Homo sapiens: one gene and its partners. The protein of the gene in region 3 purifies or fractionates together with the protein of the main gene of each other region. This does not show direct contact. Each region holds a gene or a part of one and is shown on either strand. Other genes may lie near its edges. The genes, in order: TNKS2, ALDH5A1 and PAGE4.

Evidence for each region.
Region 1: the proteins of PAGE4 (region 3) and TNKS2 purify together in Homo sapiens (affinity purification with mass spectrometry; 2 studies listed by BioGRID and IntAct, with this or other methods). This does not show direct contact.
Region 2: the proteins of PAGE4 (region 3) and ALDH5A1 purify together in Homo sapiens (affinity purification with mass spectrometry, with the first as the bait; one large-scale study listed by BioGRID). This does not show direct contact.

Annotation. Positions count from the first base shown.
Region 1 is NC_000010.11:91,801,336-91,804,987, forward strand, and holds part of TNKS2 (poly [ADP-ribose] polymerase tankyrase-2), read left to right. Parts: intron 1-3,652. UniProt on the Homo sapiens protein: Poly-ADP-ribosyltransferase involved in various processes such as Wnt signaling pathway, telomere length and vesicle trafficking.
Region 2 is NC_000006.12:24,497,877-24,501,528, forward strand, and holds part of ALDH5A1 (succinate-semialdehyde dehydrogenase, mitochondrial isoform 2 precursor), read left to right. Parts: intron 1-3,652. UniProt on the Homo sapiens protein: Catalyzes one step in the degradation of the inhibitory neurotransmitter gamma-aminobutyric acid (GABA).
Region 3 is NC_000023.11:49,827,711-49,831,462, forward strand, and holds the start of PAGE4 (P antigen family member 4), read left to right. Parts: upstream 1-1,592; 5' UTR 1,593-1,641; exon of another isoform or gene 1,642-1,655; intron 1,656-2,688; 5' UTR 2,689-2,718; coding exon 2,719-2,796; intron 2,797-3,286; coding exon 3,287-3,374; intron 3,375-3,752. UniProt on the Homo sapiens protein: Intrinsically disordered protein that potentiates the transcriptional activator activity of JUN. Protects cells from stress-induced apoptosis by inhibiting reactive oxygen species (ROS) production and via regulation of the MAPK signaling pathway.

The DNA of each region.
Region 1 (3,652 bases), on a different chromosome or scaffold from region 3:
ACTAGATTGCATACTTTTCTTCTAGATAAATATTATTTAAGAAGTAATTCCTTAGGAGAAAAATGACTCTGTAAATTGTTTCCTTTTCAGTCCGCCTGCCACTGCCCCCGACCATACGCAGATATACACAAGACAGGAATTTTTCTTTTTTTTTTTGAGATGGAGTCTAGTTCTGTCTCCCAGGCTGGAGTGCAGCGTCACGATCTCAGCTCACTGCAACCCCCACCTTCCGGGTTCGACCGATTCTCCTGTCTCAGCCTCCTAAGTAGCTGGGATTACAGGTGCGCACTGCCACGCCCGGCAAATTTTTGTATTTTTAGTAGAGACAGGGTTTCAACATGTTGGTCAGGCTGGTCTCAAACTCCTGATCTCGTGATCCGCCTGCCTCGGCCTCCCAAAGTGCTGGGATTACAGGCGTGAGCCACTGCGCCCGGCCAGGAATGATTTTTTTCCAACACAACAGAATTTGTAGAGGCAAGTTGGTGGTAGGGTGGCTGTTGCTCTAATTTTACTAAAAGCAAAAGTATCTGAAATTCTTGACAGTTAATGCCCTAGAAAACAGCAAATTTCAGTAAAGAAGACTCTGCTTCTGTGAACTTATTTCTAAAAAGTAAAGAAGAGGTGACACAAACTTGGGGAGAAAGTTATCTTGATGCCCATCATAGAAATGAAAGAAATATGTGGCATTCCTTACAATCTTAGAACTCTTGGAGTAGGGGTAGGAGCTTGCATTGTAGAGTCCTAGCTAAACAAGGTAACACTTATTTTATATTTATAGTATGTTATGTTACTGTTAGTATGAGTATGCTACTGAACCACATACATAGGACCAGTTAGACCGGACTTGGATTATTATATTCAATTGTGTGAATCAAATATAAGAGGGGATTTTTTTATTCAGAGGAGGAAAGTGGAATCAGAGCATCCAGAATTTATTGCACAAGCATAGATACGAAAATTAGTGCTGCTTATTCTAGAGATGAAAGAAGACTATACCATGTTATCGTCTTCACATATGTGGAAGAATCACAAAGAGTGAGTGGATATTACTTGTGTGGCTTTGGGAGTCAAAACTAAGGCCAGCAGGTGGAAGGTTACAAGGGGTCAGACAACCTTTAACAATATTCAGCGATCGAACTGTCTGGAAGTATCCAAGCAGTGGCTGGATTGGCATTTTTCAGAGATGTTGTAGAGAGGATTTCAGCCTAGTTCGACCAACAGGTTATAATCTCACTAGTACAAGAAAGTGGGATGATTCCTCCAATTGAAGGCTTTAGCTGCTCAGCTACCAAAGATATACTAGCTTTTGTGATTGCCATTCATATCTTTTCCCAAAATGATAACCATTGGAGACCTCCAATAACCTCTCAGTAACATTTTCTTCTTTGGCTGTAGGCCAACATCATAGTTACAAGAGATGCACAAAATTTATCCAACACTCTTCACCTAGAACTACAGTTATAGATTGTTGTTTTCAGGATTGGTTTTTGCTATGGGAGATAAATCATACATCAGCAGGAAACCCTAGTGTCAAATAAAGATCAGTCTATTTAGGAATTCATCATCTTTCTTGACTTATCAAATCTCCCAATGTATTATCAAGACTTTGAGCTATACCTTTGCCCTCAGCGCTTGCTGGATTTGGAGGTAGACAGTTGACTTCAATAACAAGAGTTTGGAGTACTCCTTTCAGTGTACCCCCATTCAGATGGTCAAAATTTCATCACCGTAGAGGCCATGGCGTTCTTTTCCAAGTTTCTACTAATCTGGCCAGACAGTATGTCTATCCCAAGTTGAGATGGGCAAAGTCCTCTCCCTTGTATTCTTCGTTCTTAAGAAGTATATGTGGGAAATAATTTTCTGGATCTTAGCAAACTAAAGTTAATAGTAAATGAGGCCCGGGCACAGTGCCACAGGCTATAATCCCAGCACTCTGGGAGGCAAAGGCAGGAGTATCACCTGAACTCAAGAGTTCAAGACCAGCCTGGGCAACAATGGTGACACCTCATCTCTACAAGAAAATAGAAAAATGAGCCGGGCATGGTGGCACAGAACTGACACTCTGGGAGGCAAAGACAGGAGTATCACTTGAGCTTAAGAGTTCAAGAGCAGCCTGGGCAACATGGCGAAACCCCATCTCTACAAAAAAATAGAAAAAGTAGCCAGGCATGGTGGTGCAGGCCTGTAGTCCTAGCTACTTGGGAGGCTAAGGTTAGAGGATTACTTGAGCCAAGGCTGCAGTGAGCCGAGATTGCGCCATTGCACTCTAGGCTGGGCAACAGAGGGAAACCTTGTAACACAAAATAGTAAATGAGAAGTTTAAAATGACATTCCTCAGAAAAAATGTGTCACTGAGAGTCCTGGCTAAAGGTTGCTTGAAAGCTGAAGGCTGTTTGATTATACCTTCCAATCTCCCAGACTACAGGAGCTTTGTTTTGTGGCATTTGTTGACATTTTTCCAGAACTTTGCCTTTGGACAAAACCCTGTGTGATAGCCTACCTTTAGATATTGCAAGACATCACCATCTCATATGGGACCAATTGTGTTATCAGTGATTAATCCCACCTTTGGACTATGAAAGACAGGAGGGGGATAGCATTTAGTTAAACTTCCTAAGAGTCTAAGTTGGTTTCTCTGTAGGAACTTGACTGCCTCACAGCTTTTGGGAAACCATTCAGATGAAAGCATGTTTCCAGTGTAGCAGCAAAATGTGATATTATTAACAATAGTCATAGTTAGCAAGCAGTACCTGGAGTTGCTGAAACTGATGGCATCTAGATAAGTAATAAATTTGACAAGAGGCTGCTTTTCTCTGTTTTCACAAATCATTAACACCATATTCTTTGTGAGGATCCTTTCCTATTCCAGCAGAGTATTAGACATGCATTAAACAAATGTTTGTCAAGTCCTGCTATATGCCAGACACTGACCTTGTCCCTGAGTAAACTGAAATGAACAGGACACAATACCTGCCATTAACTGACACATGGTTAATGTGGTCAACAAGTATACTTTACAGATAGGCCTGCTTTGCTTCACTGTAAGTACTATATAGTAGATTCATACTCTGTGTATGGTTTCATCAGAATTTTCACAAGTAGAACAGTGTTTGAAGTTGAGTGCTGTTCCATAATTACAAAATAAACTACAGTGTGTCCTGAGCAGCCATGACTACCAACTTTATTTAGGCTTCTGGTTCCTCATAAAGAGATCCTTAGAATATGGAGATTTACATTGACTCTGATGATATGCCTATTCATGTTCTACCTGGCCAGTGAGAACATGATCAGAATATACCCTGCAGAGCATTTTTTCTTCCAGAAATTGGTGCTTAACAGAAGTACTTTGAACTATTCTTGAGACCATAACAATAGAGATTTTATCAAGGATTACTCCTCAGTTTGGGAAGTATGGTTTTTTGGGGGTTGTGGGGGTGAGGCACAGAGTTTCACTCTTGTCGCCCAGGCTGGAGTGCAGTGGTGCGATCTTGGCTCACTTCAACCTCCACCTCCCAGGTTCAAGCAATTCTCCTGCCTCCTGCTTCAGCCTCCCGAGTAGCTGGGATTACAGGTATGTACCACCACGCCTGGCTAATTTTTATATTTTTAGTAGAAACAGGGTTTCACCATGTTGGCTATGGTGGTCTCGAAT
Region 2 (3,652 bases), on a different chromosome or scaffold from region 3:
CTAACCACAGTGCTGAGAATAGATGAAGAGTGGTGGAAGCAGAGAGACAGGTTAGGAGGTTGTTGCACGGATTTAGGTGGGAGGCCACGGTGGCTTGAACCAGGGTGGTAGCAGTGGACAAGGTGAAGAGTTATCCCATAAAGGATGTATTTTGAAGGTAGAGCCCACTGGATTTTCTGATGGATCATTATATAGAAAGTAGGTGAAGGAGAGGGGTTAGTGATGACTCCAGGGCTTTTGGCCTGAGCAATTGGAAGGATGAGGATAGCTGAATTGAACAGCATTAGGGTGAGATATCAAGAGTTCAGTTTTAGACTTATTGAGTTTGAGATGTCGGTTCACACCCAAGAGAGGATGTAAAGTAAGCAGTTGGGTGTATGAGTCTGAGGTTTGAGAGCGAACCCTAGGCTAGAAATATAAATGTGAAATTCATACCTGTGTGTACTGCATACATACTTACAGCTATGGAAATGGTGAGATCACAGGAAAGGAGTGGACCAGGGCCTGAGCCCTGGTTCCCCTAGCATCATTCTGGAGTCCCACAAGGCCCCACGAAGATCAAGGCTGCCATACAATGGTGTTACACTGCAGGGGTCTGGAAAGCCTTCTAGTCTGTCAGTGATTGTTTGGCAGCTGCAGGGCGGGTGTTGGGACCTCTTGCTGACACTAGCAGCATTATCCTGTGTTCAGATCACACCGCCCATCCTAATGTCTGTGCCCCTTGAACATTACAGTGATGTCAGCTTCCATCTTACAAGGGCTAGGATCTTCTCAGGGAACCTTCCTTTTTGAAAGGAGGGGTTCAGGCTGGGCACGGTGGCTAACGCCTGTAATCCCAGCACTTTGGGAGGCCAAGGCGAGTGGATCACCTGAGGTCAGGAGTTCGAGACCAGCCTGTCCAACATGGTGAAACACTGTCTCTACTAAAAATACAAAAATTGGCCAGACACGGTGGCTCACACTTGTAATCCCAGCACTTTGGGAGGCTAAGGCAGGTGGATCACTTGAGGTCAGGAGTTCAAGTCCAGCCTGGCCAACATGGCGAAACCCCATCTCTACTAAAAAATACAAAAATCAGCTGGGCGTGGTGGTGGGCGCCTGTAATCCCAGCTACTCAGGAGGCTGAGCCAAGGAGAATTGCTTGAACCTGGGAGGCGGAGGTTGCAGTGAGCCGAGATCATGCCAACTGCACTCCAGCCTGGTGGACAGAGCAAGACTCTGTCTCAAAAAAAAAAAAAAAAAAGAAAAAATACAAAAATTAGCCAGGCATTGTGGCATGCACCTGTATGTAATCCCAGCTACTCAAGAGGCTGAGGCATGAGAATTGCTTGAGCCCAGGAGGCGGAGGTTGGTTGCAGTGAGCCGAGATGGCGCCACTGTACTCCAGCCTGGGTGACAGAGCGAGACTGTCTCAAAAAACAAAAATGAAGGTTTTTCTTGGCTTTGAATACACCTGTGCAGATGTGGGAAGCTACAGCCTGAGCAGCGCTCTCTTTAGAGTGCCTTGATGGCAGCCCAGGTGGCCTAGATTCTCTAGGCCTTCCTCATTTTCTTTTTTTAAGTGGTTTTATGTGAATGAATTAATTTTTTTTTTAATAAGCCATTTCTTCCTTTTTTCTTTTCTTTTTTTTCTGAGACAGGGTCTTGCTCCATTGCCTAGGCTGGAGTACAGTGATGCTATCATTGGCTCACTGCAGCCTCAAACTCATAGGCCTAAGCGATTCCCCCACCTCAGCCTTCTGAGTAGCTGGGACCACAAGCATGCACCACCACACCCAGATAATTTCTTTTCTTTTTTTTTTTTTTTTGAGACGGAGTCTCGCTCTGTCACCCGGGCTGGAGTGCAGTGGCGCAGTCTCGGCTCAACTGCAACCTCCGCCTCCTAGGTTCTCCTGCCTCAGCCTCCCGAGTAGCTGGGACTACAGGCGCCTGCCACCATGCCCGGGTAATTTTTTTGTATTTTTAGTAGAGACGGGGTTTCACCGTGTTAGCCAGGATGGTCTGGATCTCATGACCTCATGATCCGCCCGCCTCGGCCTCCCGAAGTGCTGGGATTACAGGCACGAGCCACTGCGCCCAGCCCCACACTCAGATAATTTCTGTGTGTGTGTGTGTAGAGACAGATCTCACCGCATTGCCCAAGCTGGTGTTGAACTCCTGGCCACAAGCAACCCTCCCTCCTTGGCCTTCCAAAGTGTTGTGATTACGGGCATGAGCCGCCACACCTGGTCCCATAATATTGTTAATAATCCAATGTATCCCTTTATCTGTTTTTTGTTCATTGGAATTTTTTAAATTATGGCAAAATATGCATAACATAACATTTACCATTTTAACCATTTTTAAGTGTACATTTCAGTGGTATTAAGTGCATTCATGTTGTTGTGCCTGGGCCCTCTTCTTAAGTGTGTAAAACCCTTTCTTATGCCTCATGCATGCCCCAGTCCATATGTCAGTCTCTGGGACAAATCCAGGTTGCCAGTGAGCCACTATAATAGGGAACAATACTTGAAGACACTATGCTGAGTGAAATAAGCCAGTCACAAAAGGGCAAATGCTGTATGATTCTACTTAATATGAGGTACCTAGAGTTGTCAGATTCATAGAGACAGAAAGTAGAATGGTCCAGGCATGGTGGCTCATGATTGTAATCTCAGCACTTTGGGAGGCCAAGGCAGGAGGATCGCTTAAAGCCAGGAGTCTGAGGTTGCAGTGAGCTATGATTGCGCCACTGCACTCCAGCCTGGGCATCAGATCAAGACCGTATCTAAAATAATAATAATAATAATAATAATAATAATAATAACGTAGGGAACTATATACCTTTGTATGGTAAAATTAAAGTTGTTCTTATTTACCATAAGCAATAATAGCTGTTTCCACAAAACTTATTTTATCTTTTATAATTTATGACGCAGTATACCTCTTTAGATGCAACTTGAAATTGGATCTCTATTACTCATCAAAGAAGGGTCAGTTAGCATGAGCAATATAGTGAGACCTTGTCTGTACAAAAAAAATTTTTTTTTAATTAGCTGAGCATGATCATCCTGTAGATCCTGTTAGCATGAAAAGTCTGTATGGCATGACAACAACGACTTTAAGGGGAAGATAAGATTTCTTTCTACTTCTAAGTGATGCTGTGATACCTTAAGCACTAAGGCAGAGCTAGTAATGCTTTTTTAGTTTCACAGATCAAAGTAATCTTATTTTAACAGATCAAGGTAAAATGCTTATTTTAACAGATCAAGGTAATCGTTGTAAGATGTATATAACATGATGTTAACTTGGTAGTCTAAGTGTTTAGCTATCAAGCCGGATTCCTTAGTAGACCAAATCTTGTTATCGAAGTGTTCTTGAGCTATACCCTTGATGTTTAGAAAAAAAGTATTTGTTACCTCTTGTAGGGTCTGCTTTTTGAACTTTTCTTCCCCTGTAGTTGCCAATTCTGCATGTACTAGTCCTCTAGAAATAGGTTAAACTGAATCAACTTGATGGAAGGAACTCTCCACAGGGCTTGTTTTCCAAAGAAAAGTATAGTTTGGAGAAGCAAAGTTACAAGCCTACCTAAGCATATCATAAAGCTGTTCAGAAATAACTCAGAGCCAGTCTCGTGGATGGAAATGTAGTGCCTGAGTCACATTCTGCTTAA
Region 3 (3,752 bases):
AAGCACACTTACTGTCTGAGAGGAAGGCTGGTGGTGTGGTAGCACTATTGAACCTCTCTTTTCTTTTGAGATCATATTGTACATACACAGTGCTACATAACTGGATGTTTCAAGTTAATAACTTAAAATGAACAGCACCACTATTACAGGAAATATTATTCAGCACTGGTTTTGGTAGTCACCCATATTTCATTTTCAAGTGTGCCATAATTTACTTATATAGCAAGTCCATGACCATGCTATTATAAATTAAGCTGTTTTGGAAGTCCCATGTATCCAAATTTTTGTTCACATGGTTAAAGAAAAAAAACATTCAGTGGTAGTTGTTAAAGCACAGTAAGGAAAACCTTATTTAGGACTGTGGTGATGGGTATAGGGACCATTGCAATGGGATCTTGCAGTGGGGGAGAGAGATTGGGCTCAATACTGAATACAGCGCAGGCCAGTGGGAATGTATAGCGAAGGAGCAGTATGGCGGTCCGTGGGTGGAAAATTACTAAAAGGAAACATCAGGGGTAAGGGGGATTCTGGCTAAACCCACCTAGCAGGATTCTTGCTGAAGACAGGCCAAGGGGAATCAGACATCACCTGGGGGATGGTGGAAGATGAAGAACCCCATGCGATAGCAAGTATGATCAGATATTGAGGATGGAGGGTTCATGCCACATTGACTTAGCAGGGCTCTTTGCTAAAACTGGGTTTTACAAGGAAATGCACAGATGGGCCTAGGAGGAGAAGTTTCAGAAGCCTGACTTAAAAGTTTGGCCAAGCAAGGAATATTTGTCAACATTCAAGACAGTTTCCTTAACATTAAAGTCCTAGAAGTAGAAATGCTGGGTCACAGGATTTTTTATTTTTTGAGACAGGGTCTTGCTCTGTTGCCCAAGCTGGAGTGCAGTGGTGTGATCTTGGCTCACTGCAACCTCAACCTCCTGGGCTCAAGCTATCCTCCCACCTCAGCCTCTCAAGTAGCTGGGACTACAGGTGTGCACCACCATGCCCAGCTAATTTTTGTATTTTTTGTAAAGACAGGGTCTTGCCATGTTGCCCAGGATGGTCTCGAACTCCTGGGCTCAAGAAATCCACCCACCTCAGCATCCCAAAGTTCTAGGATTACAGGCATGAGCTGCCGCACCTGGCCTGGATTTTTGTGCAAATGTTTAGGCTTATTTATGTATGTGGGTTTATCATCCTTCTCCTTTACATTTTTTTCTGGATTCCTATCATGCTTAAAATGGCTTTGCACTCTCTGAGAACCTAAGCTTTCACGCATCTCTGGGAAGACTGAATACCCTCTTAAGGGCCACTGAGGTAGCAGCACTGAGAAAAAATTAAAGGGTAAATTTGCAGGTGAAATGCAGAGCTGGGAACATTCCTAGATCCAGAAGGACAGAACATTTTGCAGGAGGGGCCAGAAGCCAGAAACAAGCCCTTCTCAGCACCGAGCAGGCCCTTCCTCCAGGTGGCACAGAGCCTCTAGGAGGCGGGAGAGGGCTGGAAAGACAACCCACGTGACACACCCCCGAGGTTTGGGATTGGCTGGTGGGGTTGACACTGCTGAGGTCTAAACAAGGAGGCAGAAGTAGGTAGGTGCCACTTCTCTTCCCTTCATTCTTCGCCAGGCTCTCTGCTGACTCAAGTGTAAGTGAGAACAGGTGTGAGTGAGTGGGCCGGCGGGCTTCTGGTGGGTCGGGCACTGTGGTCCCTGGCCTCAGAGAAGGAAGGGCCTCGAGGTCATCATCCTTCTCCTAGCAGGCAGCTATGCGGCGGGGCAGGGACAGGGGAGGAAGGAGGGCCATGAAGGGGAGGAGGGTCAGCCAAGATGCTGTGAGTTTTGGAGCGGGACACTATCTGAGTCCTGGAGGCATATGAAACTGTCCATAAAGGACGGATGCTGGGGTCCTCAGTGGGGGCCAGGGAAAGGGTGGGACAGCCCGCGCTTGACAGCGCCTGCCTCAGTGCTCGTGTTCACTGGGGGTCTTCCCATCAGCCCCTTCACCCACGAGGTGAACTGCCGCGGAGCTGTGAGGGTGCCGTTTGCATTCCAATTGTCGGGACTCTTTCACCTGAGACTGAGACTCAGTGGGTGGGTCCACCGATCGTTCCTCCATGGGAGTTTAAGTGTGAAGAGGAGCTGGTGGGCTTCAGGAGGGTCGGGCAGCACAGTCCGTGGCCTCGGAGGAGGAAGGGCCTCACAGGTGGTGGCGCCGCCATGACCTTGTGGTTGTGGCAGGGCTGGGGCGAGGGAGGAAGTTGGGCCACGGAGGGGAGAGGGATCAGATGGAGCAAAACTTGGGGGGTACTTTTTGAGGTATCTTTGAGTCCCAGAGGCACCTGAAACTGCCGAAAGAGGACAGGTTTCGGAGTTCTCAGTGGGGACCTGGGGAGGAGGGGACCTGGGGTGGCTGTATATTAAAAAATCTCTTCATAATGGAGTTTAGTTATGAAATTAAGTCTCTTTAGGAAAGACCCCATGTTTTGATCTAGGACTTGAAGATCACTTCTCTGCCGAGCTGGCTGTGGAAGAAACAAAGCAGTTTGCAGATAGATTTATTTGATGTGATTGGAAACCAGGCGTAGTTATTATTAACTCAGGACCTATTATGGAAATCTCACAAAATTAAAAAAAATTACAATCAGCAGATGGCCATGGAAAGAGTCAAGTATAATTACTCCTTTTTATTGCAGTCTTCAGTTCACGATCTTCTAGTTGCAGCGATGAGTGCACGAGTGAGATCAAGATCCAGAGGAAGAGGAGATGGTCAGGAGGCTCCCGATGTGGTTGCATTCGTGGCTGTGAGTACATTTCAGTATCTTATTTCCATTGGCAGAAATGTATTTTTCTGAAAGAAAATCTAAAACATTGTTAACCAATATAGATCTGTTATATAAAGGACTTCCCTGCTGAAAATAGTTGCAAACTAAATCACATTAATGAGACATTGAGCAAGGAGACTTATTTTCTGATATTGTCTGCATATGTATGTTTTTAAGAGTCTGGAAATAGTCTTATGACTTTCCTATCATGCTTATTAATAAATAATACAGCCCAGAGAAGATGAAAATGGGTTCCAGAATTATTGGTCCTTGCAGGTAACTCCTTAAAGTATATTCTATATAGGAAGAATAACTTTTCTTAAGAGTACTTACAGAGAAGATAGGAAAAACCTCTTCAGATTTATTTGTGACTAGCTACCTTCACATAGTATGTATATTTGTGACTTCTATTGCCATGATATTAATAACAATATTCTATTTGCATCTACTCTCCCCCACCTCTCAAAAGCCCGGTGAATCTCAGCAAGAGGAACCACCAACTGACAATCAGGATATTGAACCTGGACAAGAGAGAGAAGGAACACCTCCGATCGAAGGTGAGAAGGGCATGGAGGAGCATTTTGTGTTTCATGTATGATTTTATACTAGTAACAGGAATAAATAAACCATCCCCTAAAAATTGGCTGGAAACCTGTAAAGTAATCCTTGGTAAGGGAATAGTGTAGTTTTCAGCTGCTGTAGTCCTTGTGATAAATTTTCTCTTCAGCATTTTACTTATCTTATATCTTAAGAGTTCTTTGGCATACTTGGAAAATACAATCCTTGCCAAGACTCTATATTAGCAAACAAAAGGAAACTACATTAAATTTAGACAAAATTGTAAACTGTTTCATGAGTTAAACTTGGTTTTATTGGGATATTATTTTTCTGGGCATAAGTCATTGCATTAAAAGTTTGAGCAAACCATATATTAT